5 separate regions of the Homo sapiens genome follow, and all the other regions are linked to region 4. Evidence: fine-mapped expression QTL. A gene starts in region 4. Each other region holds a variant in brackets. All regions are shown on one strand. Distances are between the middles of the regions. Region 1 overlaps ARHGAP21 (Rho GTPase activating protein 21). Region 2 overlaps ARHGAP21 (Rho GTPase activating protein 21). Region 3 overlaps KIAA1217. Region 4 holds the start of ARHGAP21 (Rho GTPase activating protein 21). Region 5 overlaps PRTFDC1 (phosphoribosyl transferase domain containing 1).

What was found. PIP is the estimated chance that this variant, and not a neighbour inherited with it, causes the effect.
Region 1: its variant is fine-mapped to the expression of ARHGAP21 in whole blood (TOPMed, PIP above 0.99).
Region 2: its variant is fine-mapped to the expression of ARHGAP21 in follicular helper T cells (Schmiedel 2018, PIP 0.94).
Region 3: its variant is fine-mapped to the expression of ARHGAP21 in regulatory T cells (Bossini-Castillo 2019, PIP 0.95).
Region 5: its variant is fine-mapped to the expression of ARHGAP21 in monocytes after LPS (Quach 2016, PIP 0.95). The same link has a PIP of 0.9 or more in monocytes, monocytes after Pam3CSK4 and monocytes after R848.

What each region holds. Positions count from the first base shown.
Region 1 is chr10:24,579,255-24,585,391 of GRCh38, forward strand. ARHGAP21 (Rho GTPase activating protein 21) reads right to left here. Exons shown (of 26, transcript NM_020824.4): 26 at 4,360-6,137. The coding sequence ends at 5,158. Among named protein-coding and RNA genes, the nearest start is that of ARHGAP21, 140 kb to the right of the region's middle. RefSeq lists an enhancer at 595-1,096. The variant CT/C (reference allele first, on the strand shown) is at 3,105.
Region 2 is chr10:24,626,210-24,632,346 of GRCh38, forward strand. It overlaps ARHGAP21 (Rho GTPase activating protein 21), which reads right to left. Exons shown (of 26, transcript NM_020824.4): 7 at 3,787-3,841. Among named protein-coding and RNA genes, the nearest start is that of ARHGAP21, 95 kb to the right of the region's middle. The variant C/CAT (reference allele first, on the strand shown) is at 2,607.
Region 3 is chr10:24,268,130-24,274,266 of GRCh38, forward strand. The region is part of intron 2 of KIAA1217; the gene reads left to right. Among named protein-coding and RNA genes, the nearest start is that of MIR603, 4.5 kb to the right of the region's middle. The variant A/G (reference allele first, on the strand shown) is at 2,770.
Region 4 is chr10:24,721,412-24,727,548 of GRCh38, forward strand. It overlaps ARHGAP21 (Rho GTPase activating protein 21), which reads right to left and starts at 2,476. Exons shown (of 26, transcript NM_020824.4): 1 at 2,151-2,476; 2 at 426-868. The coding sequence starts at 488. RefSeq lists silencers at 1,256-1,565, 1,626-1,985, 2,006-2,085, 2,176-2,245, 2,276-2,465 and 1 more and an enhancer at 2,009-2,919.
Region 5 is chr10:24,919,386-24,925,522 of GRCh38, forward strand. All of the region lies in intron 3 of PRTFDC1 (phosphoribosyl transferase domain containing 1), which reads right to left. Among named protein-coding and RNA genes, the nearest start is that of PRTFDC1, 30 kb to the right of the region's middle. RefSeq lists an enhancer at 2,075-2,219 and a cis regulatory region at 2,142-2,152. The variant A/G (reference allele first, on the strand shown) is at 3,123.

The DNA.
Region 1 (6,137 bases), 140 kb before region 4:
ACTCTCAGAATCCCAGCTAACTACTGTATTACATCTACTGCCTTCCTTATTGCCTTAGTGAAGAATGTGCCATGAAATGTTTTTGCTTAAACATGTATGTGATGATCCTAAGACATTGTTATGTGTAATGAATTGACTTTTTTTCTACGGATCTAACGTACTGGATAGGTACCATCCATCCTTGGAAGAATTTTGAGAATAGCTACTCAAATCACTTTCTGTGTTGTGTGGTCAGATGAGAAAGCCTGAGTGGGCAGAGATGGTACCACTGTGCTCTAGCTTGGGTGACAGAGTGAGACCCTGTCTCAAAAAAACAAAAAAGTAACAAAAAGTGAGGTACAGTGATTCCACCTTCTGGGGAAGTTTAACCATACCTTAAAATCTAATGCTGACTAGGTGAAATTCAGACAATGTCATACATGAGCACCTAGTTTTTTGCTTTGTTCTGTTGGTAGATTTTTACAACTGCCATCTTCATTCTACTCTCAGAAAGTAAAGGTTTCAAGACATGTTTTGTTTTGTGTCTGTAAGAAAGCATCTTCAGGACCCCATGGTCAACAAATTTGACAATCGATAAATCTTTATGTCCAATTCCCAATATTTTCCTTTTGTAACTGCTTCATTGGAAGGTTTGAGCATATATTATACTGTCTAAACCTTCTCCTTGGCTGGACAAAACTAAGCTTCCTTCTGCTTTGTATTTCCTTCTACTGTCCTAAGATGCTGTTCCAGCTCTCGTGGTATTTAGCTTTCATAGCAGGGATGCTGGGAGGTCTGTGTAACAGATGCTCTTCCCCTAGTACAACTCCCCTCCTTCCTTCCTTCCTGGGCAGCCAGCTGAGATGCCTGTTACAATTGGCTCCTACTGTTCTCTGTTGCACAAATCAGTCAGCTAAAGCAGCCCTGCTGGTGTCGTATGGTTTAACCTTGCTACAGTGAAATGGCAAGTAGGGACATTTGATTGTCTTGCATACGAATCCAGGGATCTGACATTTTGTAGCAAAAAGCTCATCAAAAACGACCAGAGGAAAAGATAATCCTGCCATTCTACCTAATATCAGTCACAAAATGAACTCCAGCACATGAAAACGAACTTTAAGCCTACTAGAAAACAAATATATACCATATGTCTGTGGATAGGGAAGTATTTTTTAGCGGTTCTCAAAATACACATATAAAAGCCAACAAATGGGGATAAATAAAATTTAAAACTATGCAAAGAAACACCTGAAACAAAGTTTAAAAACTATAGACTGAAAGAGGGGATTTGAAATTAAGATTAGTATCCAAATCTTGTAAAGATCTGTGAGGAAAAAAACAACAGAAATATGATCAAAGGTTCACATAGCTGGACGCAATGGCTCATGCCTGTAATCCCAGCACGTTGGGAGGCTGAGGCGGGAGGACTCCCTGAGCTCAGGAGTTCAAGACCAGCCTGTCCAACATGGTGAAACCCCGTCTCTACTAAAAATACAAAAAATTAGCCAGGTGTGATGGCGCGTGGCTGTAATCTCAGTTACGCGGAAGACTGAGGCAGGAGAATTGCTTGAATCTGGGAGGTGGAGGTTGCAGTGAGCTGAGATCACGCCACTTCACTCCAGCCTGGTGACAGAGCGAGACTGTGTCGTCACCAAAAAAAAAAAAAAAAAAAAAAAAAAAAAAAAAAAAACTTAGTTGGAAACCAGAATAGCCAATGAACATCTGAAACGTGGTCTCTGCCCTAGTAATGCAGGAAATGTAAACCAGTGAGAGATCTCACACCCATCAACTTTGTTTTAAAAACAAAATTTTTAAACACTGACAGTACCCTACTGTCCTTGAGGAAGTGAAGAGATGAGAATCCTCGTACACTGCCGGCGAACTCTGGAGATTAATTTGACAAAACCTAGTAAAGCTGCAATGTGCCAGGTCGGTGCAGTGGCTCACACCTGTAATCGCAGCACTTTGGGAGACCAAGACAGGCAAATCGCTTGAGCCCAGGCATTTGAGACCAGCCTGGGCAACATGATGAAACCTGGTCTCTACAAAAAAATACACAAAGTAGAATCCAATTTAAATTATATTCAGTTAAGTCAAGGATGTCCATGAAAAGAACATATAAATATGCTAATAGGAGGAAATGGTATAATAAAAATATTAATCCAAAAGAGGCAAGAAACAAGAGAAAAGGGTAGGTAAAATGCCCTGGTCATGGAGAAAATGAATGGTTCAGCTGTAGATGTGAATCCAAACACATAAATAATCATATTAAATGTAACTGGGTTACATATTCCAACTAAGAGACTATGTTTAAAGAAAATCTATATGCTGTTATGAGAAAAATACAAAAGGATTAATACGGATGGAAATGATGTATTATGCAAATACTAACCAAAAGTAACTAATATAGCTACATTAATATATAAAATAAGGTAATAAAGCTTTGGTTGAGACTCATTATGAAGGACATTTCATAATAGAAGGGTCAATCTACCACAAAGACGTAACAATTCTAAATTTATGTTCACTTAGTAAACTAACTTCAAAATAAAAGATTGACATAAAAGATATGCAAATCTACATTCATATCATAATATTCTATCACTTCTCAGGAACTGGTAAGAGCCAGGGAAGAAATCTATAATGATCTAGATCTGTAAAACATGATTAAATTTGACCTAATACACCAAATAAAAAGCATCCAGTAAGGATAGAAACATATTCTTTTCAAGTAGACGTGTTATTTCTCAAAATTGACCATATAGTGGGGTCAAAATGGATGTCTCAATTTCAAATGTATGTTTAATGATAATGTAACATTATGCTGGAGTCAACATAACCAGAAAGTTTTCAAATGTTTGGAAATTAAGCAATACATTGCTAAATAACTCACAGGTTAAAGAAAAAAATCAGAATGCAAACTAGAAAGCATTTTGAAATGAATGATAATAAAAATACAGCATATAGCCTTAAAATGAAGATATTAGAAAACAACTAAAAATCAATTTTCCAAGCAATCGTCTCAAGAAATTAAAAAGTCGAGCAAATTATAGCCAAAGAAAGGTTGGGCGTGGTGACTCATGCCGGTAATCCCAGTACTTTGGGAGGCCAAGGCGGGCGGATCG[CT/C]TTGAGCCTCGGAGTTTGAGATGAGCCTGGGCAACATGGAGAAAGCCCATCTCTACAAAAAATACAAAAAAAAAAAAGTTAGCTGGGCATGGTGGCATGTGCCTGTCAGTCGCAGCTCTGCAGTGAACTGTGATGATCGTACCACTGTACTCCAGCCTGGGCAATAGACTGATAGTGAGACTCTCTCTCAAAAGAAAAAAAAATATAGAAAAAATGAGGAGCAAGAACAAATAATATAAAACTATTTGAGCCTTGAAAGTAACTTTTAAAACATATAAGTAAAAAGTGTTTTTGACACTTTTAATAATACACTGCAAGAACTCCCCCTCATGTAAACTAAGGGAAGTGTGTGCTTTGTTTTGTTCAAAACTTTAAAAGCAGAGCATGACTCCTAGTAAAATCTCATCGCCAGCAGCAAACTATTCATGGTACCATCTCCATGTGTAGTTACCATTGTTAGTGACTCTATATACTGGAGCAAACATCTGACTATTCCATTATATTATTTTCATGATGTAGTTGTACCTGAGCATTTGCATATTGAAAAATTTATTTTATTATAAATCACTTTCATTTTTCTTTTATAATAGGGGATTATGGTCTATATCATAACATACTCAATGTAAAGTTATATTTAGATATATTATGAATTTCATGATGGTAAAGGGGAAATCTCAAAATACTTTTAAGAAAGTATCATGTTTGACAGTTGACAATCTCTGGATTTGATGACTGTTAAGGTCCTTCTCAGCCTTAACAGTCTGAGATTTTTTTGTAACCATTACTTCCAACAATAGCTTTGTTCTATTTTGAAACTAGTGTGTGGCAGGCACTGTAAGTGGAACAGTATCTCATTTAAATCTAATCACCCTTATAATAGGTAGTGTTACTGTAACTAACTGTTTATATGAGAAAACAAATTCAGAGAAGTTAAATAATGTGTTCAAGTTCACATACCTAGGTAGAGCTGGACTGACTCCAAACTCATGTTCGTTTCACTCACGAAAAGAACATTAACATAACATACATTACTTTACCTAGAAGAGTTAAACACTATCAGTCAACAAGTGAGGTTAGGCTAATGTAAGCATCTGTAAGAAAGAGTCTCTACCCACCACAGCAAGAAAGAGGAGAAGATGGAATGTATAAATATAGTAGGCACCTTTTTAAAGTCAGGACCAATTAATCATGTAAGGTAGTTATAAATGGATGACATCTAAAAATATATCAGAATAAGTTTCAAGCCATGCAAAATTCACCAAAACAATTTTTATTTCCAGTGTTTAATTGGGTATGCACACAGGCATGACACAGGTTTGGATTCATTAAGTCCTCATGCAGAATTATATTCTTCTCGATAAAGAAGCCAGTTCCATCCAGGATCCACTATCTACACACCTATGTTACAACATTATATCAAATCTGGTATCTGAAGAAAAGATACACATTTAATATGTTCATTTAAGTTACGTATTTTACAGAAAGATTAAAAATTCAAGTCACACAAAACTCAAAAACTGTATTAAAAGTTTGAATATAAAACTCAGATCCACCTGGAATGACTAAAGAATGGAAGTTCTGTATCCACCTGTGTTAAAACTGGTAAATGTAATGATATCTGTTACCAATAAAACGCATTCGTTTATTCAATGTAAGTAAGTTATCTAATTTTAACAATATGGCACCCTAAAAACCAACTGTATTTTTATGATGAGGCACTTTTGTTAGTGATGAAACCAAAAGAACAAATTTGCTGCACACTGATGCCAGCGATTTTCTTCAGTGATTTTGGGTATATGCTATGTAGTAAGTTGCAACAAATACCTTGCTCATTTGTATACAACTATCCGATATATTTTTAAATATATATATATATATATATGTTCTTCTGGCTGTAGTAATGCACTGTAAAGCTATTTCACAGTGCAAAATGATGAAACCAGCCCAAATGAAGGCTGCATAATAACAATTCTGATACAAGAAAATATTGACAGAGTTACTGGAACGTGTAACAGTAGTTTTTTTACTTGCTAGAGTGGACATACCCCCAGTTTAAAGACAGGGATGAAACTCTGCTTTACTGCCTGGGGTTTCAGACAGTTTATGAGGTTGGGCATTCGCTGCAGAACTAGCATTTTTGCTCACGTTCTGGAAGCTTTCTCCGTTTATTTGGTCAGGTGACTGTGGTGGTATGGAAAGAAGGGGCCTGTTTGTTGAAGCCAAGGTGCTGGAAGAACTGCCTGTGTTGCAATGAAGAGACAAAGGTGTGTCGGTCGTGGCTATTTCTCGTGTGCTTGGGTTCTCTGTCTGGGGATCTCCGATTTCTCCTCTGCTAAGGTCAGAGGTACTGGTGCGTAGGCGTTCCCTGGCCAGCCAGTCTGAGATGGAAAGGTCCTGGGCTGAGCATTTTGGTTTTAACCGGTTTACAGCTGAAAGTTCAGATTCTCTCTCCCCGCTCTGCTCATGCACTTTCCAAAAATTCAAAACGCTGATTTCGGTAGCATCTCTGTGCCCTCCTAGTGTATGTCTGCGCCGGATGCTTTTCCTTTTAGCAGTCTCGGCATTCACTTTGTGATTCCCTACTCCAAACATGTCATCCGCAGGGGCTCTGGGTCTCAGTTTTAACCGATCTGCTATTTTCGTTTTCCATGTGGGTTCCTGTTTTTCGGATTCGCCTCTGGTGGGTGTCAGTAAACTCCCAGTTGACTTTCCTTTTTTCATAACATCAAACACTTTAGTTAACGAAGGTGCTTCTTTCTCATTCTTGGCATCTCCTAGACTTCCACTATCTGACTTGAATCTAGCTGATTTTTTCCTGGAAAGAGTATCACATTCGATGAGTTTATGGGAACTGAAGAGCTGTCTCCGGCTATCTAAACTTGATGTTAAACTTCCCTCGGTGCAACTTAATTCACTTCCTTCAGAATTTCTCCGGCTGCTCTTAGTCACTTCTTGCAGTTTTCCTCGGAAAAGCCTCTCTGAAGTCAAGGCTGTGGGGAACACGGGAAACTCGCTCTCGCTGTCGGTTTCCA
Region 2 (6,137 bases), 95 kb before region 4:
GGTGATGAACCAAGAAGTATGCCCCGATCTAGTTCTCCTACCACTATCTCACTCAGGGAAGTATTCTCTTTGGTCAGTGCTACGGTCTGAATGTTTGTGTGTTCCCCTCCCCTAATTCGTATGTTGACACTTAATCACCAGTGTGAATGAGTTAGGAGATGGGGCCTCTGGGAGATGATTAGGTCATGAGGGTAGACCTCATGTATGAAATTAGTGTCCTTATAAAAGAAGCCACAGAGAGCTGCGTCAGCTCTTCCACCAAGTGAAGACACAGTGAAAAGGTACTATCTATGAGAAAATGGGCCCTCACGAGACACCAAATCTACCTGAGCCTTGACCTTGGGCTTCCCAGCCTCCAGAATATGAGAAATAAATTTCTTTGTTTATAGGCCATCCAGTCTAAGGTATTTTGTTACAGCAGCCCAAATAGACTAAGAGAGTCAGCATCATTGTTTAGGTGACCAGACTGGTGTGGCTATTTCACTCATGCATAGATAACATTTAATGGGGAAACAAAATCATTTTGGTTTTTGGAAATACAATAAAAAACCTTTTTATTTTGCAATAAACACGAACCTGTCTAAGATACCAGAGTCTAAAATATTACAACAAAATACTGTTAAAATGATTAAAATGAATGTAATACTATTTATATTGTTAACCTAGAAAATATATGCTGGTTTAAAAAATGAGGCTGCCAAGCACAGGACTCCTATTACTAGCACTAGTTTAAAAACATAAATGAATTATTCTTAATTTTACTTCATGGTTTTAAACATTCTATCATTGTCATCCATGAATTATGAAACCTATAATCATATACCTGTCCTTACACGAGTCAAATTTTAAGCCAAATTAAATTTTCTAGGCCACCTCTCAAAGGTGAGCAGAGCACTTCTAAAATAATTTGGTCTGTATATCACTTCAGGAAAAGAAAAAAAACCTCCATGCACTACCCAATCCTGTTGCCCAGGCAAACATATACAACCTACAAGTGTTTCCATGGGTAAATGATTTTTACAGTGGCTGTAAAAATGTTCACATTACCCATTGCTTTTCTTTACAATAAATATTCAACCTCATGGGAACAAATACATCTTTAAAAGCATATATTTTGAATAACAGATTTAAGATCTGCATAAGTACTTCTGAAGTACATTAAAGAACATTTTAACTCTGGAATATATGTTAGAGACAGAAAATTATATATTCCTTTGATTTCTTAATGAATTACACTACATTCAAATGTGAATTAAGGTTAAAAAGTAGAGTTTTCTTTTATGATTAAAGGCATGTACTTTTATTTCTTAATGATTAAAGTAATTCAAATACCATGTTTTAAAAATAAATTTTATGTTACAGTATACCAGAACTCTTTACTGCTGAGCCTTGAAGATCTGCATGCTCATGTTATTTACTGAACTGGTTTTTCTCTGTCTCTGGGATACTTTATATTTTACTTTTACTTTAGATTTACTTAAATAAAATTTAACAAGACAGACTATTCTAGAATATGAATGAGTAACAGAACAAAACTAATTTTTCTTTAAGTGACCTCTTTTTCCATTAATCATATCATTACAAAATTACTCCTTCCATTACATGAAGTGGTTTGCTGCTCTTCATCAATCACACTGCAGGATATCATGGCGATTCTGCATTTAATTGCTTCCATGCCAGCCATTCTGTGAAATGAGCACTGTTCCAAGAGCCATCCAACCAGTACCTTCACCTTGGCAAGGAAAGGGTCTACTGAAGATCGGAAAACAGTTCAGTTTCATAAGCTGATTCTGTCTTCAAGCCTTCAGATTGCAAGGAGGAAGCCAGGTAAATCCTTCGCTACCATATACACCATCTTCTGTATAAGAAGAGCACTAGAGAAGAATTCCCTATTTATTTCTAGTCTAGTTATTTTCATAGCCATTGGTGTCTGTGGTTATGTCTGCTACATGATCACTATGCTGAATTGTCAGGGTAGGAACTCTACAACCACTTTTGCATGTCTAGGAAAATTACTGCAGCAAACTGTATCTTCCTTCCTGAGCCTCCCAACTCCAACTGAACTGTGTACTTCAGAAGGGTAATTGTTATCGGTACTAAGCCATTCCTAAGTAAAATCTACATGCCTTGAAAACATGGGGTTAATCCCCATGAGTTTCACTTAATTATAGTTTACATGTCAGTGAATGACTCTTTAGGATCGGCTTTAGTGATTTTTTTTTTTATAAAACATGTTTACAGATTATTTATGGCCTTTGATGAGCTAAGTTCAAACTACTGCCTTACAAATGAAGAACATTACTATACCATTTCCATTACCACGACAAAGAGTCCATCAGCTCCCTGCTTTTCTTGAATTTAGCTATAGGTAATAAGAAAAAAACCCAATTGTTTACCAAAAAGAATTAAAAATAAATACTTCAGCGGCCACTGCCATTTCCTAGATCTGTTAGTTGTAAGTATGTTACTTAAAGAGTTTTTCTATTTTATTCTACAGAACTGCAAAATCAATTGAAGGAAAATGTTATTTTCTTGAATGAAATATGTGTGTGTGTGTGTGTGCATATATATATACACACATATATACACATATATACATATATATA[C/CAT]ATATACACACATATATGTACATATATACACATACATATATATACACATATATACATACATATATACACATATATATACATACATATATACACATATATACACATATATATACATACATATATATACACACACACACTATATATATATATATATATATATATATATATTTTTTTTTTTTTTTTTTTTTTTTTTTTTTTGAGATGAAGTTTTGCTGTTTCACCCAGGCTGGAGTGCAGTGGCGCGATCTTGGCTCACTGCAACCTCTGCCTTCCGGTTTCAAGCGATTCTCCTGTCTCAGCCTCCCAAGTAGCTGGGATTACAGGTGCCCACCACAATGCCCAGCTAATTTTTGTATTTAGTAGAGATAGGGTAGAGATAGGGTTTCACCACATTGGCCAGGCTAGTCTCGAACTCCTGACCTCATGATCCGCCCGCCTCGGCCTCCCAAAGTGCTGGGATTACAGGCGTGAGCCACCGTGCCCAGATGAAATTTATATTTTTATCATCAGCAGTATTTAAGCTTAGTAAAGGAGTTAAGTATTCTATTCAATTTCTTTCTTTATAAAAATCAGAAAAATATTTTAGACTAAATACTAAAGTTTTCAAGTTTCATTTCAAGACCATAACATATTTTCCCCTTAAGTTGTAGACTCCGTTCATTGTGAACATTTTAGGAACGAATTGATACTACTAACAATACTGCTTGGTGAATTTACAAACGTAATATTTATTGGAAAATTAGAAAATGGCAATCATAAAGTTTGTCCTCGTATTACAAAAATAAGATTCTATTTTTTTTTTTTCTCTGTACATAGTGAGAAGGAAAAAAAAAAAGATTCTAATTCCTGGGGATATGCACTTGCACTCTAAACTCTTCCTTTGGTCCAAGGATGAACTAGAAGGCAACACTAGGACAAACTCTTTAGGAATCTCATTCTAAATGAGAGCATTAAGAGTTCACTGTAGAATCAACATAACATTTCCATGTCACTTAATTGCAAAAACTTGGCAATGGTATTTTTGTAAAATGTAGAGAATTCCAGATTCTGTAAAAGGAACCAGAGGGTTTTTAAATTCTAGAATTTTTTTTAAATTCCATCTTTAATACTTCCATCTCAAAAATATTTTCCGAACATTCATGACTGTAAAACAACTCATATATGAATAAATAAAACTTACCACTTGGAGAATGTCTTCATCTTTTGGCATAACACTAAGTTCCAATGTTGTATCACTGAAATTGAATTATATACTATTTTAGGAGAGGTAGAAGTGTATAAAAAAAGACTTAATGGAAAAACAGTTAACTCAGAAGTATTTTTTAAATTGTTTAAGAGTTTATTCTGGTTTTCTTATATCTTAATTTTTAAAATCAAATCATTAGAATGAAAAGAAGTCACCTTTGTATACGTAAGTTAACTATATACAAAAGAGGGACGGACCCCTGCCATGTTTGTGCTATTCATAATCAGTAAAGTTTTCTTTATAACATGTTTCTAATTTAGAAATATAAAGTATGTTGCTTATATTAAATAGTCCCAGGACAAACTCTTAACAATATCAGTATACAATTATTTATTGTTTTATTCAAGTCACAAAACAAATTATAGATTGTTGTCATATATTCTGTTCAAGTTAAAATTCATTAACATCAAAGAACCCTCAAACTTAATATTTTAAGTAATTTTTTTTTTAGACTGAGTCTCACACTGTCACCCCGGCTGGAGTGCAGTGGCGCAATCTTGGCTCACTGCAACCTCTGCCTCCTGGGTCTAAGCCATTCTCATGCCTCAGCTTCCCAAGTAGCTGGGACTACAGGGCATGTGCCACCATACCCAGCTAATTTTTCTATTTTTAGTAGAGAGGAGGGCTCACCACATTGGCCATGCTGATCTGGAATTCCTGACCTCAAGGGACCTGCCCACTTCAGCCTCCCAAAGTGCTGGGATTACAGGCGTGAGCCACTGTGCCCAGCCAAGTAATATTAAACATCTTAATTTTGCAATATTCCCTCCTGGCCTCAGAAGTGAAGGAAATCGCTTTACTGTCACAACTACTGAGCTGACTCATTTTTAATAACTATATAACATTTCAACTATTTGCTTTTTTCCCTATGATTTACTTTTAGTGCCTTTACAGGGACAGCTCAAAGTCTAATTTTATTTTGGTTCTGTAAATTTCCTGTTGAAAATGATAGAGAAATTTCCCTAAGTTTAGAAAGTTCAAAGGGGTAAACAAAACTGAATCCTGTGATCTGGAGGTACATACAGATATGGCAAAGGTGCCGGGCGAAGTGGCTTACGTTCCCAGGCCAAGGTGGGTGGATCACTTGAGGTCAGGAGTTCGAGACCAGCCTGGCCAACATGTTGAAAACTCGTCTCCACTAAAAATACAAAAATTAGCTGGACGTGGTGGCAGGTGCCTGTAATCCCAGCTTCTCAGGAGGCTGAGGCAGGAGAATTGCTTGAACCTGGGAGGCGGACATTGCAGTGAGCTGAGATCATGCCATTGCATTCCAGCCTGGGCAACAAGAGTGAAACTCCCTCTCAAAAAAGAAATAATAAAATAAAATAAAATAAAAGTTATGGCAAAGGCAGTGCTACTATCTCCACCAAATGCTTCAACAGCTAATCTAACAATATCAGACATATTTTCCCCCAATACAGTCAAGAGATTAAGAAACAATCAACAACAAAAAACAAAATAATCTACTGGTGTCTCTTCTTGACAGATTTGAATCATTATGTTTAGTTTCATAAATGCTCAGATTATACTAAACCCATGAGAACCACAGGTTCAAATAAATTTAACTAGTAAAATATGTAGGTACTTTCATTTCAATATTTAGAGTTGGTAGAAACTGATGTTTAGATAAACTCCTGTGCAAGGACACATCTGTTTGTTTGTTGTTTTTGTTTTGAGACAGGGTCTCACTCTGACACTCAGGCTAGAGTGCAGTGGCTCTATCAAGGTTCACTTGATTAACCTCACTTGACTGACCTCCTGGACTCAGGTGATCCTCCCACCTCAGCCTCCCAAGTATCTGGGACAACAGACACACACCAGCACGCCCAGCTAATTTTTTGTAGAGACAGGGTTTCACCATGTTGCCCAGGCTGGTATCAAACTCCTAGGCTCAAGTGATCGGCCCACCTCAGCCTCCTAAAATGCTGGGATTACAGGCATGAGCCACTGCACCCAGCCCACAAGGACACATGTTATATTAATCCACTGCAGAATCTCAAGGGCTTTGTGGTGCATTACCCATTTGCTACCAACTGCAGACAGAAGAAAAACAACACTTTTAATGGAAATAAGATTATGAAAAAATATTTCTCTAATATTCAAATTGATTTTAGTGGTTGAAGTGTTATTATTCTGAAAGATGAACTGTACCAGTAACAGAAGAATCAATGTAGATTTTGAAGAAAACAATGATTAAGTTGGTTTTTAAAGAAGAGATATTAACAAATACACTAAGTCTTTTAAGTTATGGGCTGACAAAACATATCGTTGTATTTATGATGATC
Region 3 (6,137 bases), 450 kb before region 4:
AGGAATCAGAGCAAGTCATTACTCTCTAGTTCATTTGGCTAGAAAGGTCAGGTCGCCTATATTGACTTTTCATGAAAACTAGGCGAACTAGTAGTTTTCATGCACAATATGTCAACAACCTGTTATATTTGAAATTCTTTTTAAATTAGGTGGGTGAATGGTGTAAAACTTCACTATATTTTCTCCCTGCCTGTTAATTGACTTGCTAATCTCCTGCCAATATATGTCCATTTTAAAAAACAAACAACCCCATCAAAAAGTGGGCAAAGGACATGAACAGACACTTCTCAAAAGAAGACATTTATGCAGCCAAAAAACACATGAAAAAATGCTCATCATCACTGGCCATCAGAGAAATGCAAATCAAAACCACTATGAGGTATCATCTCACACCAGTTAGAATGGCAATCATTAAAAAGTCAGGAAACAACAGGTGCTGGAGAGGATGTGGAGAAATAGGAACACTTTTACACTGTTGGTGGGACTGTAAACTAGTTCAACCATTGTGGAAGTCAGCGTGGAGATTCCTCAGGGATCTAGAACTAGAAATACCATTTGACCCAGCCATCCCATTACTGGGTATATACCCAAAGGACTATAAATCATGCTGCTATAAAGACACATGCACACGTATGTTTATTGCGGCATTATTCACAATAGCAAAGACTTGGAACCAACCCAAATGTCCAACAATGATAGACTGGATTAAGAAAATGTGGCATATATACACCATGGAATACTATGCAGCCATAAAAAATGATGAGTTCATGTCCTTTGTAGGGACATGGATGAAATTGGAAATCATCATTCTCAGTAAACTATCGCAAGGACAAAAAACCAAACACCGCATATTCTCACTCATAGGTGGGAATTGAACAATGAGATCACATGGACACAGGAAGGGGAATATCACACTCTGGGGACTGTGGTGGGGTGGGGGGAGGGGGGAAGGATAGCATTGGGAGATATACCTAATGCTAGATGACGAGTTAGTGGGTGCAGCGCACCAGCATGGCACATGTATACATATGTAACTAACCTGCACAATGTGCACATGTACCCTAAAAGTTAAAGTATAATTAAAAAAAAAAAAAAAAAAAAAAAGGATTGTGGCCTGGCGCAGTGGTTCACACTTGTAATCTCAACAGTTTGGGAGACCGAGGTGAGAAGATCACTGGAGGCCAGGAGTTTGAGACCACCCTGGGCAACAGAGCAAGATCCTTTCTCTACAAAAAAGTAAAACATATGAGGCGGCCTGTTGGCACACATTTGTAGTCCTAGCTACTCGGGAGGCTGAGGTGGAAGGATGGCTTGAGCCCTGGAGTTTGAGGCTGCTGTGAGCCATGACCGTGCCACTGTACTCCAGCTTGGGCAACAGAGTGATTCCCTGACTTAAAAAACAAAAAGATTGCTTTAAACATTCATCAAAAAACAGAGCAAATTACACTTTGGCAGAAACATGAAGGCTAATACTTGAATCCAAGCACCCATTCCCTCTGGGCTTACCACACTGAAGGCAAAATGAGTGGGGTTGGTTTTTCTCCTCAAGAAATGTTGTTCTGGGACAGTGAGTCATTGGTTTTTGTTCTTGCAACCCTTCATCATCTAACAGGTTTGGTTAACTCAAGAAGTTCTAGGAAATGTTCAAACACTGCAGATATTTATCAAGGGGCATTTTTAGGAGTAGCAGAGTGTCAAGAACTCAAATTGACATCTAGTGGCAACACTTCTAAAGATTGGGGCCCCGTACTATATACAATGCTAAATTTCCAATGCTGTGATTGGAAAAGACTATGAGAAGGCCTCTAGTCTCTTCCCACTACCATCATCTGCAGCAGGCCCACACCACCCAAATCAACACAGGTATGGAAGAATCGCCCCCTGCCACAGGAGTGGGCAGTAAGCGTTAGAACACAGATTGCCGAGTTCTGGTTCTCAGTCCACCCAAGTCTGGTCTGTTTCCCTAACTGTAGAAGGAAGGTGTTAGAAATGGAAAATCCTTAATATATTCTTTGATTTTTTCAAAACAGAATAATTGATTTTTATCATCTTTCTTAGTATACCTTTCACGTTCTGCACAATTATTCTAGATTCAAACTGAAGATTGTGGTTCATGTCAAGAGTCAGTTTGGTCACTGAACACTGTCTCATCCAGCTGTGGGACACTCATATGAGCTTGGTCATAGGTGGCTCATCTTCCCCCACTTACTGGGTTTCCATAATGCCATTCTCTTGGGCTGTTAGATAAAATATTTACAACCCATCCCTCCATCATCATCAAAGCAATTTATTTGCACAAACTCCACTGTCACTAAATCACATGAATGCATCCATCTTTCTTATTTTCATCTTTTTGAAAATTAGCCAGCATGAAAAATAACAGCAATCGATTAAGCTATTGCATTGTGAAGAGTAGCTTAGATTTCTTTCTTTCTTTTTTTCACCCTGTTGCCCAGGCTGGAGTGCAGTGGTGCGATTTCAGCTCACTGCAACCTCTGCCTCCCAGGTTCAAGAGATTCTCCTGCCTCAGCCGCCTAAGTAACTGAGATTACGGGCGCCTGCCTCCACACCCAGCTAATTTTTGTTTTATTTTTTTTAGTAGTTATGGGGTTTCACCATGTTACCCAGGCTGGTCTCGAACTCCTGACCTCAAGTAATCCACCTGCCTTGGCCTCCCAAGGTGATGGGATCATAGGCATGAGCCACTGCACCCAGCCAGATTTCTTTCTTTTGATGATATTTGGGAGTAACTGTGGAATGTGTCCCCCC[A/G]CCTATATCATACAGCAATATTTTTTTGATCTACAAAGCACACCATATACTTCACTATTTATTCTGCTGAGGGGAAATGGGTGAGACTGCCAGATTTCTATGAGAATTACAGGGTTTTCAAGTCATTATGGAGAAAATGATTGAGGTTCAGTGTCATTGGAAAAAGCATATTCTTAATTTGTCTATAATTTTTCCTTTAATTGGTAGTTTGGCTCCATTTTCAAAGTACTTTTGAAGCTTTCTTTTCCAATTTGGCATCAAAGTTATTTTTCTAAGTGCCATTCAATTTGGGACTTATTTTCTATTTTGATTGACATAAAATATGTCATTCTGAAAGGAAAAATATCAACACAGTTTTTGAGTAAGAAACTCAGTAACATTGAACTTAGTAATCACCTCCCTAGGAGTGAAATTTCATGGTCATATATATTGAAAAAACCTCACAATATAACCAACATGCTATCTGAATCTTGATTGAGATTCCACATCATAAGTGCTAATTTCAGTTCTGACTATAACCAATTTGTTAGTTTATACTTACTCTTTACTAAAGGAAAGAAGAGTAGGAATAGGATGGTGCGGTGGCTCACACCTGTAATTCTAGCACTTTGGGAGGCCGAGGTGGGTAGATCACATGAACCCAGGAGTTCAAGACCAGCGTGGGCAACGTGGCAAAACCCCATCTCTGCAAAAAATTATAATAATTAGCCAGGCGTGGTGGCATGTACTTGTAGTCCCAGGTACTGGAGAGGCTGAGGTGGAAGGATCACCTGAGCCTGGGGAGGTTGAGGCTGCAGTGTGTCGAGATTGTGCCACTGCACTTCAGCCTGGGTGACAGAGTGAGACCCTGTCTTAAAAAAAAAAAAGAGTGAGAATAATGAAACTGTGCACACGCAGGCCTTTTAATAAACTTTCCCCCTGTACGCAGCCCATTCTAGCTATATATATTTCTTGGTCCCAGCCTCTTCAAATAAAAATTGTTTTATTCAAAAGTATGACCTAGCCTTATACAAGATAAGATAGCCCACTTAAAAGTGGCATAAAAGGCCACTTTTATGCATCTCCATTTTAGGTTGGTTACAAGAGGCACAGAGAGACCAAAGCCCATGGGATGCTCGTGAGAGTAGGAAATTGGGTGGGAAGGGTGGACTCGGGAGACAACCTGACATCTCTCTACTTGAAGCCTAGCAATAAGGTTCAAAGGTTCCTCATGCCTTGTTTTCCCTTCTCTCTACATGATTAAGATCCCATTCCTGTAACAGATAGCAATGTGTTTATGCAGTAAAATTAGATAAGGGAGATTACTAGGGAAGTCACTACTCAGTTAGGGATGTCAGTGGTGCTCACTGCAGGTCCAGGTTAGTAATAAGAACTCTGGACTAGTAGCTAGGAGTGCTTGAATCTAGATTAGTTCTACTTTCTAACTCGATGTGTGACATTTTTTCCACTTAATTTTTTTGGCCTTGGTTATCTTATTGGAAAAAATATTCAAGTTGCACAAATAACTAAATGATGCCTGAGTTTTCATTCAGTTCTAAAACTTCTCAACTGAGCAATCTGTTGTTGAAAGGAGAGTACGAGTTCTAAAAGCTACTCTAGGGAGCTCTGCATTCACCAAGCCGCTCCATCATTGTTGGGAAGAAAATACTAAGGTTGACTCATTGTCAAAGCCACATTCTACTCAAACTCAATGTACATAACTCGAATTCTAGCCACATTCCAGCCAAATTGAGATAGCTGTTCAAATAGTCATGGATTTATTTAATAACTGACTTCGAAATTCTTTACTTCTTTCAAGGTGGCATTAACAAGTATTTCGGAATTTCAACAGAGATCGGTTTTCACGTGCTCTTCAATGATCCCTGTGAAATAAATCATATTCAAGGGTTTTTTTCCCCTTATGAGTTATTCGCCTGAAGGAAGAATTCTTCATTTCTTTTTCTTTTAAATGCATGTTGGAATAAAGTCTTCTTTGAAAAGTCTTAATGAAAAGAGCAAACGTGGAATAGCATCCACCCCAGTTCTTTCTCTGGTCCTTGCACTCTGAGAATGAAGTCTTAGACAGCAGAATGTCAGGGGACTCTCATTGCGTAAAAGTCTGTGCCCTTCTGCGCCTTGGACAGTTATGGACAGAAGCCTTTAAGAAGAAGAAAATTAAAACTAGTTAATTTTTTAGTTAATTTTAGCAACACTACATATATGAGAGAGAGAAAAGATGGCATTTTCTGAATGAATGAGATGCCTCTGCATTTTGCCCAACTCATTGGAGACTCAGGATAGAGAAAAGGGAGAAATTATGTTTAGAGGCTGATAAATTTCCCTATGGTTACTATCAAGAGATCAGACTCTTATTAACATTTGCAAAGTGTGAGCAGAGAAGAGCATTTGAACAATAAGCATAGATTAAGTACTCCTCTTTCCTTCATTCCCTTTTCTCTAGTCATATTCTCAGACAGTCCAGGCTAAGTATTAATGATCTTCTTTGAAGTTAAACATACCCTTGCTACTTTCATTACATTATTATTTTTATGTTCTTCCTTTTGGAGTACTCAAGGTAAATGACATGGCAGAATCTGTCCCAGTCCAGTGAGGGTGTCACATAAGAGGCCCTTGGCTTACCTCTATGCATAACTGGCCCACGTCACATCTTTAATTAGAAGTCCAAGTTATTGGCTGGACGCCATGGCTCATGCCTGTAATCCAAGCACTTTGGGAGGCCAAGGTGGGTGGATCACCTGAGGTCAGGAGTTCGAGACCAGCCTGGCCAACATAGTGAAACCCTGTCTCTACTAAAAATGCAAATATCAGCCGGGTGTGGTGGCACATGCCTGTAATCACAGCTACTCGGGAGGCTTGAGGCTGGAGAATCGCCTGAGCACACGAGATGGAGGTTGCAGTGAGCCGAGATCGTGCCACTGTGTTCTAGCCTGGGCGACAGAACAAGACTCTGTCTCAAAAAAAAAAAAAAAGTCCAAGTTACTGTTGCAGGGATTGGGACATCTTGCCTTTCTCAAGTTGAGCAATATTCCCAAATATAAAAATGTAGGATCTTAGTCCAATCAGAGCAGATATTTGGTGTAGGGCATTTTCTAATGTAGTACCAATAAATTAGACGCATACCTCAACCAAAAAACAGCCCATATCCAGTAAGTAATAAGGCAATGATTTACATTTCACATATTACCAGAGTAATGACTAATAGCATACATGTATAAACTGAAAAGTGACTGATGCTTATTTTCAGATGGGTCCAAATTTATTGGATAATTATGGAGAATAATGTATGTTTTCTGAGAGTTGGTAGTAAGAAAATATTGCCATTGCTGGCCAGGCACAATGGCTCACACCTATAATCCCAGCATTTTGGG
Region 4 (6,137 bases):
AGCATACTAGCTGCCCTCTCTGCACCTTGGAGCAGACACAAATGCTGAAAGCCACCCCCAACCAGCTCAACTCCAAATATCTCGGAAGGGGACTGAAGGAAAACGGATACTGAGGTGCCCATTCTCAGGCTTGTAGCATCCACAGCCACAGAGACGGGAGAATTCCTGGCTCTGAGAAGGGGTGACCAAGATGAGGACATTCCAAACTGCGGGACATGTTCTTGCAAAAGAAACACGGGAGTCCCTGGAAACAGACGTGGGCCAGGCTTCTCCTCGCTACTGGTTAAGCTGGGGCGCTCCCGCCAACAGGCTCAAAGCCCCGGGAAGCCCCTAGTGAGGCCCCGTGGCCGGTAACCCCCAACTTGCAGGACGCTCAAGACACAGGCCACCGCCCTGCCGGCCAGGAACGCTGGCTCCGCGCTTACCTCGCAGGCCTTGAGCTTGTCACCATCTCCCTCAGACAGACCAGTCCGACGCGTGGCCATCATTTCATTTCAAATGACAAAGAAGGGACAAATCCTTTGGAGTCCACATTGGACGTGGCGGGGAATGCCACCACACACCCGAAGGGGAAGAATTCCACAAGCAGGCTCCGAGGAGGGGCAGGGCTGTTGAAACAGACAACGTGCCAGGGAATAAAGGTTTTCAGGAAGCGCCTTCAAATGCCTCGCTGATTTCTCGTGACTTCAACTGACTTCGCCTTCTTCTTCCATTTCTGGAGACTTAAAAACAAAGGCGACAGGTCTTCTTGGCAGCCAGTGTCGAGGCCAATTGCAGAAAGCGGTCCCCTTCTTCCCAGTGCCACTCCTGAGTCCTGGAAAAATCCGAATGGGTCGTGAAGGTTCGAGTGTCAGCTCCTAGAGAGATCCTAGGAAAACGAGAAGTTAAAGGTCATGAACTTTCTCCAGGCGCCTATCACTGTCTTGCCCACATGTCCACACCAAGTTCGCGTTTCCTCCCGAGCAAAACAAACAAAAAAAAATTTTAACGTAAACAAACAAAAAGCCTATAAATTCGAGGGGGTGTTTAAAAAAGAGAAATCTCGAAACTGCCCAGCGGTTGCGTCAAACACACCTGGCTGTTATGCAGCCTTCAAGAAAAAATGTTCCCCATTCAAGTGCATTTTAATTCATGTCTTTCCTGGGTAGAGCAGAGGGCTGTGCATGTTGTTTTCTGCATCACCCAGACAGGGACACTTCGGTGAAGTTTTCTCCCCCACGAGGCTGAAATGGGATCACACTTTCCAAGCCCCCTCTTCGCTCCCCTCCGCCCCCCAAAAACGCAAGCACAAAGCCAGCCTGGCTGGGGCCGGCGTGGGCTCGGCGGCGTCTCCGGGTGACTCGGGCGCCGCCCCTCCGCCCCTCCGCCCCGGCCGGCGTCCCCGAGGAGGCGGCTGTTTTCCTTGGCCCGCGGCGGGGCTGGGTGGGGACGGCCGGGGAGGCGTGCGCGGCCGCGGGTGGGACGCCGGCGCCGCTCCCGCTCCAGGGCATGATTCTGGAGCTACACCCGAGCAACTCTGAAGTCGCGGCTTTTCCCCCAACTACCACTCGACACGGCTTCCCTTCCCCTGTGGCCACCTAGGGGGAAAAAACGAGAAAAAGCAAACCACCACCCACCTCCCCACGATTCCCCCGCCCCTTCCTGAGGCGGGTCGGGGACCTCGAGCTCCCGAGGAGAGCGGCCCCAATATGGACTTTCTCAAAGGTGCTAGGAGCCCCGGGGCGAGACAAAACCGGGGGCCTTACCCTTCCCGCCCGCTCGGGCCCGGCGGCCGAAGCGCGGCGGCGAGCTGAAGCGGAGACGCTGGCCGGGCGCCGGGCCCGGCCGGGACGCGCTAGGCCGCAGGCTCGGTTAATATTCATGAGCGGCCCCAGGCGCCCCTCCTCCAAGGCTGGCCGGCCGGACCCCAGCGCCCACCGCCGGCCTTTGTGCCCTTCCCTCCGCCCCGCCGCCCGCCCTTGCTCCGCACACGCGGGCGCGGCCCCTCCGCCCCCGCCGGGCGCCCGCCGCGGGCTCCCTCCGGCCCCGAGCCAGCGCCCGGCCGGGTGGCCTGTGGCGGGAAGGGAGAGAGCCCGCGGCAAGCCGGGCACTCCACGGCCCGCGAGCGCAGCGCCCTCTCGGCTGAGACGGAAAAGAAACCAGACACGCACCAGAGGAAGCGGGACGAGTGGATCCGCACGGGGCTGGCCGGCTCCGGGACAGCGCGCCCCGCCCGCCCGCCCGGCGTGAGCCGGACCCCGCAGCCGGACGATCCCGCGCTGCCCGCCGCCGCCGCCGCCGCCGCCGCCGCGCTCCGAGGCCGCCGCCCCCGGCCGGCCGCTCCCAGGCACCGCCGCGACCTGCCCCGGCCGGCCCCGGGCTCTCGGCCGCCGCAGGAGGGCGTGGGGCGGGGCGGCGGCCGCCGGACTCTCCCCTCGCCTCGCCGGGCCGGGCCGGGGCCCAGCTCCGGCGCCCGCGAACGCCAAGTGACAGAAGCGCCTCGCTCCGTGGCCGCGCGGAGCTGTTTCCCGGGGGCGGATTTCTCGCTTCTTCCTCCCTGGATCCACCTCCTCCCACTCCACCTCCTTCCCCTCCCCTCCCCAGGGGAGGCTCTGGGGCTGAATATTTTCTGTCTTGAATAACACGGGACCGGGGAACCGACGCTGGAGAAGGGGGATTAGCCGGAGGCCGGAGCGGGGTGCTCGCCTGCCCCCTCCCCGTGGGTCGCGGGACCTACAAGCCCTCGCCCCCCAGCACCCCAAAACCAGGCACACAACGCTCCCCGCCCCTGCAGTCTCCCAAGCGCTGAACGGCAGCGTCCAGGGATGGGCTTGCTCCCGGGAAAGGAGACCTGGTGGTAGACGTCTGGGGTGGAGAGGGGGACAAGCCTATAACAGCGACATCTGCAGACTCCAGGGATCAAAGGTCCTAGATTGGGGGACAGGGCTTGGCAAATTGTGCCCCCACCCCTTTTTTGCAGCGGGAAGGCAATGAAGCTGCGACGAGACGTGGGACTTCCAGATAAGGGAGTGTCCCCTCACGCCTCACAGCAAAAATCTCTTCCTGTGGTGGGAAGGGGGAAGTTAGCCAAGCGTTGCTCATTCAGTTCTTTCCCTTTTATAAATTCTGCAGAGCGGCTGAGCGAATTTGGCGCGGCTAGCGGAACTGTGGAGAGGCGGCTGCGCTTCTCTGTCCGCCACACTCCAGGTCACAGCGGCTCCGGAGCCGCGGCACAACCGCCACCCTCCCCACCCAATTCCCGGGCCTTGTCACAGACCCCGGCAGCTCGCTCCGCCCCGCCGTGCCTCACAACATCTCCCGCTGCAAATTACCCAATCGGGAGACGCGACGAGAGAACGCGAACCAATCAGGGGCTGGTAAATCAGGCTTCCCTCCGCCCTCTTCCCCGCCCCCGGGTGAAGGCCACCGCCCCCTCGGCCTCTCCTTCCCACCCCGCCCCGCTCCGGGGAGGTGGCTCCCCGGCTCCGAGCCTCGCGGGGCTGGAGGGGGAGTTGCTCGCAGTCAGAGGCAGCGTTTGTCACCTTGTCACCCTCATCCTCGCCCCCTCCCATACACACTCCCCTCCCCTTCTCGGTGCTCCTGCTGGTGCTGTTGAGGGTCATTTTTATCCTCACTGCGGCCGGGGACTGCCAGCTATTGTGTCTGATCAGCTGCCACCGCTGTCCAGAGGGAAAAAAAGAAGAACAAAACCTAGAAACTGTGGAGTCCTCTTACCTTTTCCTTCTTTCTTTCTACACTCTCCCCTGTAGACTTAGAAACATCCCTTCTCCTTCCCCGCCCGCCCACCACCTGAGGTCCTGTTTCTTTATGGGGGACAGGGGAGCGGGGACAAAAAACACTCCCTGCAGCTGGAGTACCTGCGCCTTAGTTTTTACATCTTCCTTAAAGTGGAAGGTGCCAAACCAAATCTACAACTAAATCCTCCGCTTCAATTCGAGGGAAGACGTTGACGAGATCATTTTTATATGGCCATGAAATTTGCGTGTTCTTGACAGCCTGTCACCAAACAAGTCAGCTAATAATCAAGAAAAGAAAAATAGAATAAAATACAAGGACTGTATTTCAGTCAGATGGTAATTTACTAAATAGCCCAGTGGCTGTAGCAGTATCCAGTGCTAGATACAATTGAGTAAATTAACAAGAAGTGAATAGAAATTCAGGGTTCAAGTAGCTCACCGCTTGTGGGCTTATAGAATATGTCCAGAAAGGAAAAACAACTTACAGCACAAAACAACTCCTTGCACATGCAAATGTGCATGCATGGCATGAACGGCGTACCTAACAGCTGAGGACTTTTGGGTTAAAATTTTTGCACTAGAAATTTTTTAAATGTTGATTGTGAAATTTTCAGTTTGATAAAGGAGAGTAAAATGTGGGCCATGAAAGGAGAAGGAAAAGGAAGGAAAACACATTCTAGGAATTATGGAAAAATAACATAACCTAGAGAGGCAATATTTCTATAAGAGGTAATAAGATGTAAGGATCAAGATTACAATCCAACTCCATCATTTACCACGTAACTTAGGGAAAATTATGACTTATGTGTCTAAGTACTAGAGCTATCAAATTCAATACCTCCTGCTAGGTACTCCTCTAAAAGCTTTACACACAACATATTGAGATAGGTGGGTGGTGAAGCAAGGATTCAAGCCCAGGGGATCTGGCTCCAGAGTCCATTCTTTTATTCACAACACTATACTAGGCTGGGCCCAGTGGCTTATGCCTGTAATCCCAGCACTTTGGGAGGCTGAGGTGGGAGGATCGCTTGAGTCCAGGAGTTTGAGACCAGCGTGGACAACATAGGGAGACCCGTCTGTACAAACAAAAAGTTAGCTGGGCGTGGTGGCATGTGCCTGTAGTCCCAGCTACAAAGGAGGCTGTGAGGCAGGAGGATCGCTTGAGCCCAGCAGTTCAAGGCTGCAGTGAGCCCTGTCCAAGTGTGGCACTCTAGCTAGGGCAACAGAGCCAGACTGTGTCTCAAAAAATAATAAATAAATAAATAAATAAATAAATCACTGTACTACCTCTTAATATGGGTTTTTAATAATAACAGCTAACACTTAACTTACTATGTGTGAATTATTGTGGTCTTTGAGTGCCAATTTAACTCTACTCCTGGGACAAATATAATTGTGATGTTCTAAAATTTGGGAATGTTTTTAAGAACTGTTATGATAAGTTACTATCTTAGGTATCTTAAGTGTATTAGGCTATCTGTACGGAGAAGTGCAAAGGCACACAGCTAAGATTTGAAAAACCTGTGTCCTGGGCTTCTACAGGACCTCTGAGTTGTAACAGCATCCTCCCTGTCTTGCTGGACTGTTAAAGAGAATCAAATGAGATAATAGATGTGAAGAAATTTTAAGGCCAGGTGCGGTGGCTTATGCCTGTAATCTCAGCACTTTGGCAGGCCCAGGCAGGAGGACCACTTGAGCCCATGAGTTCAACAAGCCTGGGCAACATAACGGGGCCCTATATCTATAAAAAAATTTTTTTTTAATTAGCCAGGTGTGGTGGCCAATGCCTGTGGTCCCAGCTACTTGGAAAGCTAAGGTGTGAGGATCGCTTGAGCCCAGGAGGTCAAAGCTGCAGTGAGTCTTGATCACACCAGCGCACTCCAGCCTGGGCAACAGAAGACACTTTTAAAACGTAAAAAACATTATTTCAATCAAAATATTATGGGCTGGGCATGATGGCTCATGTCTGTAATCCCAGCACTTTGGGAGGCCAAGGCGGGCGGATCACTTAAGGCCGGGAGTTCAAGACTAACCTGGGCAACATGGTGAAACCCCTTCTCTACTGAAAATACAAAAATTAGCCTGGCGTGGTGGCACGTGCCTGTAATCCCAGCTGCTTGAGAGGCTGAGGCATGAGAATCCCTTGAGCCCGGGAGGAAGAGGTTGGAGTGAGCCGAGATTGCGCCACTGCACTCCAGCCTGGGTGACAGAGCGAGACTCCATCTCAAAAAATAAAATATTACTATAAAGCAGAAGTTTGTACTATTTCCCCAACAGGAACCCTACTGTTTATAACATTTTATTGATACTGTTTAGGAATATATGAACCCAGTTAAAAATTAGGTCTATTCCTTTCTGAAGCCATGAACAAGAATATTTTAATATCAGCTCTCATTTGGA
Region 5 (6,137 bases), 200 kb after region 4:
GACTCCCTGTTTAATAAATGGTGCTGGGAGAACTGGTTAGCCATGTGCAGAAAATTGAAACTGCACCCCTTCCTTATATCTTATACAAAAATTAACTCCAGATGGATTAAAGACTTAAATGGAAAACCCAAAACTATAAAAACTCTAGGAGAAAATCTAGGCAATACCAGTCAGGACATAGGCATGGGCCAAGATTTCATGACAAAAACATCAAAAGCAATTGCAACAAAAGCACAAATTGACAAATGGGATCTAATTAAACTGAAGAGCTTCCACACAGCAAAAGAAACTATTGTCAGAGTGAACAGACAACTTATAGATGGGAGAAAATTTTTGCAATCTATGCATCTGACAAAGGGCTAATATCCAGAATCTACAAGGGACTTAAACAAATTTACATTAAAAAAAAACCATTAAAAATGGGCAAAGGACATGAACAGACACTTCTCAAAAGAAGACATTTAAGTGGCCAACAAACATGAAAAAAAACTCAACATCACAAATCATTAGAGAAATGCAAATCAAGACCACAATGAGATACCATCTCATGCCAGTCAGAATGGTGATTATCAAAAAGTCAAGAAACGATAGATGCTGGTGAGGCTATGGAGAAATAGGAAAGCTTTTACCCTGTTGGTGGGAATGTAAATTAGTTCAACCATTATGGAAGACAGTGCGGCAATCCCTCAGAGACTTAGAATCAGAAATACCATTTGACCCAGTAATCCCATGGCTGGGTATATACTCAAAGGAATATAATAAATCATTCTATTATAAAGATACATGCACACTTATGTTCACTGAAGCACTATTCACAATAGCAAAGACATGGAATCAACCCAAATGCCCATCAATGATAGACTGGATAAATAAAATGTTATATATATATGTGTATATATATATGAGTGTGTGTGTATATATATATGTGTGTGTATATATATATATACCATGGAATACTATGCAGCCATCAAAAGGAAGGAGATCATGTCCTTTGCAGGAACATAGGTGGAGCTTGAAGCCATTATAGTCAGCAAACTAATGCAGGAACAGAAAACCAAGCACCACATGTTCTCATTTACAAGTGGGAGCTGAACAATGAGAACACATGGACACAAGGAGGGGAACAACACACACTAGGTCCTGTTGGGGATGGAAGATGCGGCGACAGCATCAGGATAAATAGCTAACACATGTGGGGCTTAATACCTAGGTGATGGGTTGATAGATGCAGCAAATCACCATGGCACACATTTACCTATGTAACAAACCTGCACGTCCTGCACATGTATCCTGGAACTTAAAATAAAATTCAATTTTTTTTTCAAAAAAGGAAATAAGTCATTCTAGTAGATGTATTCTGCATAGAGTAGTCTAACAGTACTGCTGATGGAAAAATAACTATCCCTGAAAAAGTCTACAATAATCTATCCATTTGATATATATTTAAATTTATCCATTAAAAGAAACAAACATGGAATTCCATAATGGTTTTCAAAATAAAATATTTCACTAATCTTCTAAAATTACTAACAATTCTGTTACAGGAACACTGCCTCAAAGCATCTAAAATGGTATTCTGTTTTGCAGATCTAAATTGACCTACACTGAAAGTAAGTAGCTTTTGCTTTAAGTATAGGAATAAAACAAGAATATGTCACTTTCATGGTTAAGTATTTCCCTGCCTACAACACAGCGGTTACAAGTGATTAAAAAAAAAACAAAAAAACAAAAAACAAAGGTGTCATTATCACTTCCTGAGTGATCAGGGCTCAGATATCGCTGGAGTAAGGGGTATGTTTAAAAATCATTTTTGTCCTAAGAAATTATCTTAATATGAAGATGAGGGAGAATATCACACATTTTCATTTCTCAGATCTCTTACACACGCCAATGTGAATTTTGGAAGTGTGAGTTGGGGCAGACTTCTGAGCCTGCCTTCTAGCTATCTTTCCTAATTAGAGGAGGATCCACACCCCAAAACAACACACAGAGGTCTATAGGGCACCAAAGCCCCCATCCCGGTCCTTCAACAGGGACTCCTGAGAGCTGCAGAGAGGAAGGAGTCATTCCAGGCCTCGATGATCACATGCTAACCAACACTTCCCACTGCTGTATTAGATTAGCATTTTTAGCAAAAGTACTGCTGACTCATCACCAACTGCTGGCCTTTTCCTTTCCACTCCTGCCTAGTCATTCCTCTCTGTGGCGTGGGCTGTGGGGGCCCTTGACGTACTGTTGTGCCCTTTTCCTCACCAAGAGTCATCCTGTTTTTAATGACATTATTCTCCTATTTGTCAATGTCTGTTTGAGTTCATTTCTGTTCTCTAGGAAAAAAAAAAAAAAAAAGCTAGGCAAACAAAAAAATGTCAAAACTGTCCTCCTCCAAATGAATCCCAAATTAATAAGTAGAAAATTAAATAATTCTTGTCCTTGAAAGCTACAGATTGTAAGCATGTTGAATTACCTGAGTGATTAACAATAATGCTGTGTTTAATAATGGCAAACTCATGCAAGAAAGGAATATACACTATGGGTTAAAACGACAATAAAACCATTAAACTCAAACTTTATTATAGTACAATGAGCATCATAAACAATTGTCAAAGGCATTATTTTTCCATAAATATTTTCCCCAAACCATTTTATTATATATCCAACTGTGTTGCTTTTTCCCACCAAATCCAAATTATTTCCTGGTAACTTTCCTAGACTTTAAAGTTCATGTGTTTTATAAAATACAAATGGAATATGTAATCTCAAAAAGATTTTCCTGGTCTTGATGCTAAATTTTACATTCTATATCAGTTACAAAATGTTGATAAAAATAACCTAACATAAAATAAGGATAATTGTTAATATTTTGCTGCCTGCAATTATTTTCCTGCAGAAAATGAGAAATTATCTGGGCATAATTAATAAAATACATCATTAGATCCTTTTTGGAAAAGATCAGGTATATATCAGTTAAACTGATTACCGCATTGATATGGTTTGGCTCTGTGCGCTTACACAAGTCTCACCTTGAATTGTAATAATCTCCATGTGTCATGGGAGGGACCCTGTGGGAAGTAATTGAATCACAGGGGTGGGGTTTTCCCATGCTGTTCTCATGATAGTGAATA[A/G]GTCTCATGAGATCTGATGGTTTTATAAAGGAGAGTTCCCCTGCATATGCCCTCTTGCCTGCCACCATGTAAGATATGATTTTGCCCCTAATTTGCCTTCTGCCATGATTGTGAGGCCTCCCCAGCCATATGGAACTGTGAGTCCATTAAACCTCTTTCCTGGGTCGCTTCCAAGATGGCTGAATAGGAACAGCTCCAGTCTGCAGCTCCCAGCATGATTGATGCAGAAGATGGGTGATTTCTGCATTTCCAACTGAGGTAGCTGGTTCATCTTATTGGGACGGGTTGGACAGTGGGTGCGGCCCATAGGGGGCAAGCCGAAGTGGGGTGGGGCATTGCCTCACCTGGAAGCACAAGGAGTTGGGTGATTTCCCTTTCCTAGCCAAGGGAAGCTGTGACAGACTGTACCTGGAGGAACCGTACACTTCTGTCCAAATACTGCACTTTTCCCACAGTCTTAGCAACTGGCAGACAAAGAGATTCCATCCTGTCTGTGCCTGGCTCAGCAGTCCCATGCCCATGGAGCCTTGCTCACTGCTAGCACAGCAGTCGGAAATCAACCTGTGATGCTGTAGCTGGGCAGTGGGAGGGTCGTCCACCATTGCTGAGGCTTCAGTATGTAAACAAAGTGGCTGGGAAGCTCAAACTGGGCAGAGCCCACCACAGCTCAGCAAGGCCTACCGCCTCTCTAGACTCCACCTCTGTGGGCAGGGTATAGCTGAACAAAAGGCAGCAGTCAACTTCTGCAGACTTAAACATCCCCGTCTGATAGCTCTGAAGAGAGCAGTGGTTCTCCCAGCACAGCATTCGAGCTCTGAGAACGGACAGACTGCCTCCTCAATTGGGTCCCTGACCCCCATTTAGCCTGACTGGGAGACACTCCCAAAAGGGGCCGACAGACACCTCATACAGGTGGGTGCCCTTCTGGAATGAAGCTTCCAGAGGAAGGATCAGGCAGCAATATTTGCTGTTCTGCAGCCTCCGCTGGTGATACCCAGGTAAACGGGGTCTGGAGTGGACCTCCAGCAAACTAAACAGACCCGCAGCTGAGGGGCCTGTTAGAAGGAAAACTAGCAAACAGAAAGGAATAGCAACAACATCAACAAAAAGGACATCCACACCAAAACCCCATCTGTAGGTCACCAACATCAAAGACCAAAGGTAGATAAAACCACAAAGACGGGGAGAAACCAGAGCAGAAAAGCTGAAAATTCCAAAAACCAGAGTTCTTCTTCTCCTCCAAAGGATCGCAGCTCCTCACCAGCAATGGAACAAAACTGGACAGAGAATGAGTTTGAGGAGTTGACAGAAGTAGGTTTCAGAAGGTCGGTAATAACAAACTTCTCTGAGCTAAAGGAACATGTTCTAACTCATCGCAAGGAAGCTAAAAACCTTGAAAAAAGGTTAGATAAATGGCTAACTAGAATAAACAGTGTAGAGAAGAACTTAAATGACCTGATGGAGCTGAAAACCACAGTACGAGAACTTCGTGACGCATGCACAAGCTTCAATAGCTGATTCGATCAAGTAGAAGAAACGATATCAGTGATTGAAGATCAAATTAATGAAATAAAGTGAGAAGACAAGATTAGAGAAAAAAGAGTGAAAAGAAACGAACACAGTCTCCAAGAAATATAGGACTATGTGAAAAGACCAAATCTATGTTTGATTGGTGTACCTGAAAGTGATGGGGAGAATGAAACCAAGTTAGAAAACACTCTTCAGGATATTACCCAGGAGAACTTCCCCAACCTAGCAAGGCAGGCCAACATTCAAATTCAGGAAATACAGAGAACACCACAAAGATACTCCTCGAGAAGAGCAACCCCAAGACACATAATTGTCAGATTCATCAAGGTTGAAATGAAGGAAAAAATGTTAAGGGCAGCCAGAGAGAAAGGTTGGGTTACCCACAAAGGGAAGCCCATCAGACTAACAGCAACAAAAGCCAAAATAGACAAATGGGATCTAATTAAACTAAAGAGCTTCTGCACAGCAAAAGAAACTATCATCAGAGTGAACAGACAACCTACAGAATGGGAGAAAAATTTTGCAATCTACCCATCTGACAAAGGGCTAATATCCAGAATCTACAAAGAACTTAAACAAATTTACAAGAAAAAACAACCCCATCAAAAAGTGGGCAAAAGACATGAACAGACACTTCTCAAAAGAAGACATTTATGCAGCCAACAGACACATGAAAAAAAAATGCTCATCATCACTGGTCATCAGAGAAATGCAAATCAAAACCACAATGAGATAACATCTCACTCCAGTTAGAATGGCTATCATTAAAAAGTCAGGAAACAACAGATGCTGGAGAGGATATGGAGAAATAGGAACACTTTTACATTGTTGGTGGGAGTGTAAATTAGTTCAACTATTGTGGAAGACAGTGTGGTGATTCCTCAAGGATCTAGAACTAGAAATACCTTTGACCCAGGGATCCCATTACTGGGTATATACCCAAAGGATTATAAATCATGCTACTATAAAGACACATGCACACATATGTTTATTGTGGCACTCTTCACAATAGCAAAGACTTGGAACCAACTCAAATGTCCATCAATGATAGACTGGATTAAGAAAATGTGGCACATATACACTATGGAATACTATGCAGCCATAAAAAAGGATGAGTTCATGTCCTTTGCAGGGACATGGATGAGGCTGGAAACCATCATTTTTAGCAAACTATCACAAGGACAGAAAACCAAACACTGCATGTTCTCACTCATAGGTGGGAGTTGAACAATGAGAACACATGGACACAGGGCGGGGAACATCACACATTGAGGCCTGTGGAGGGGGTGTCGGGGGCTGGCGGAGGGATAGCATTAGGAGAAATAACTAATGTAAATGTCGAGTCAATGGGTGCAGCAAACCAACATGGCACATGTATACCTATGTAACAAACCTGCACATTGTGCACATGTACCCTAGAACTTAAAATATAATTAAAAAAATAAATAAACCTCTTTCCTTTATAAATTACCCAGTTTCAGTTAT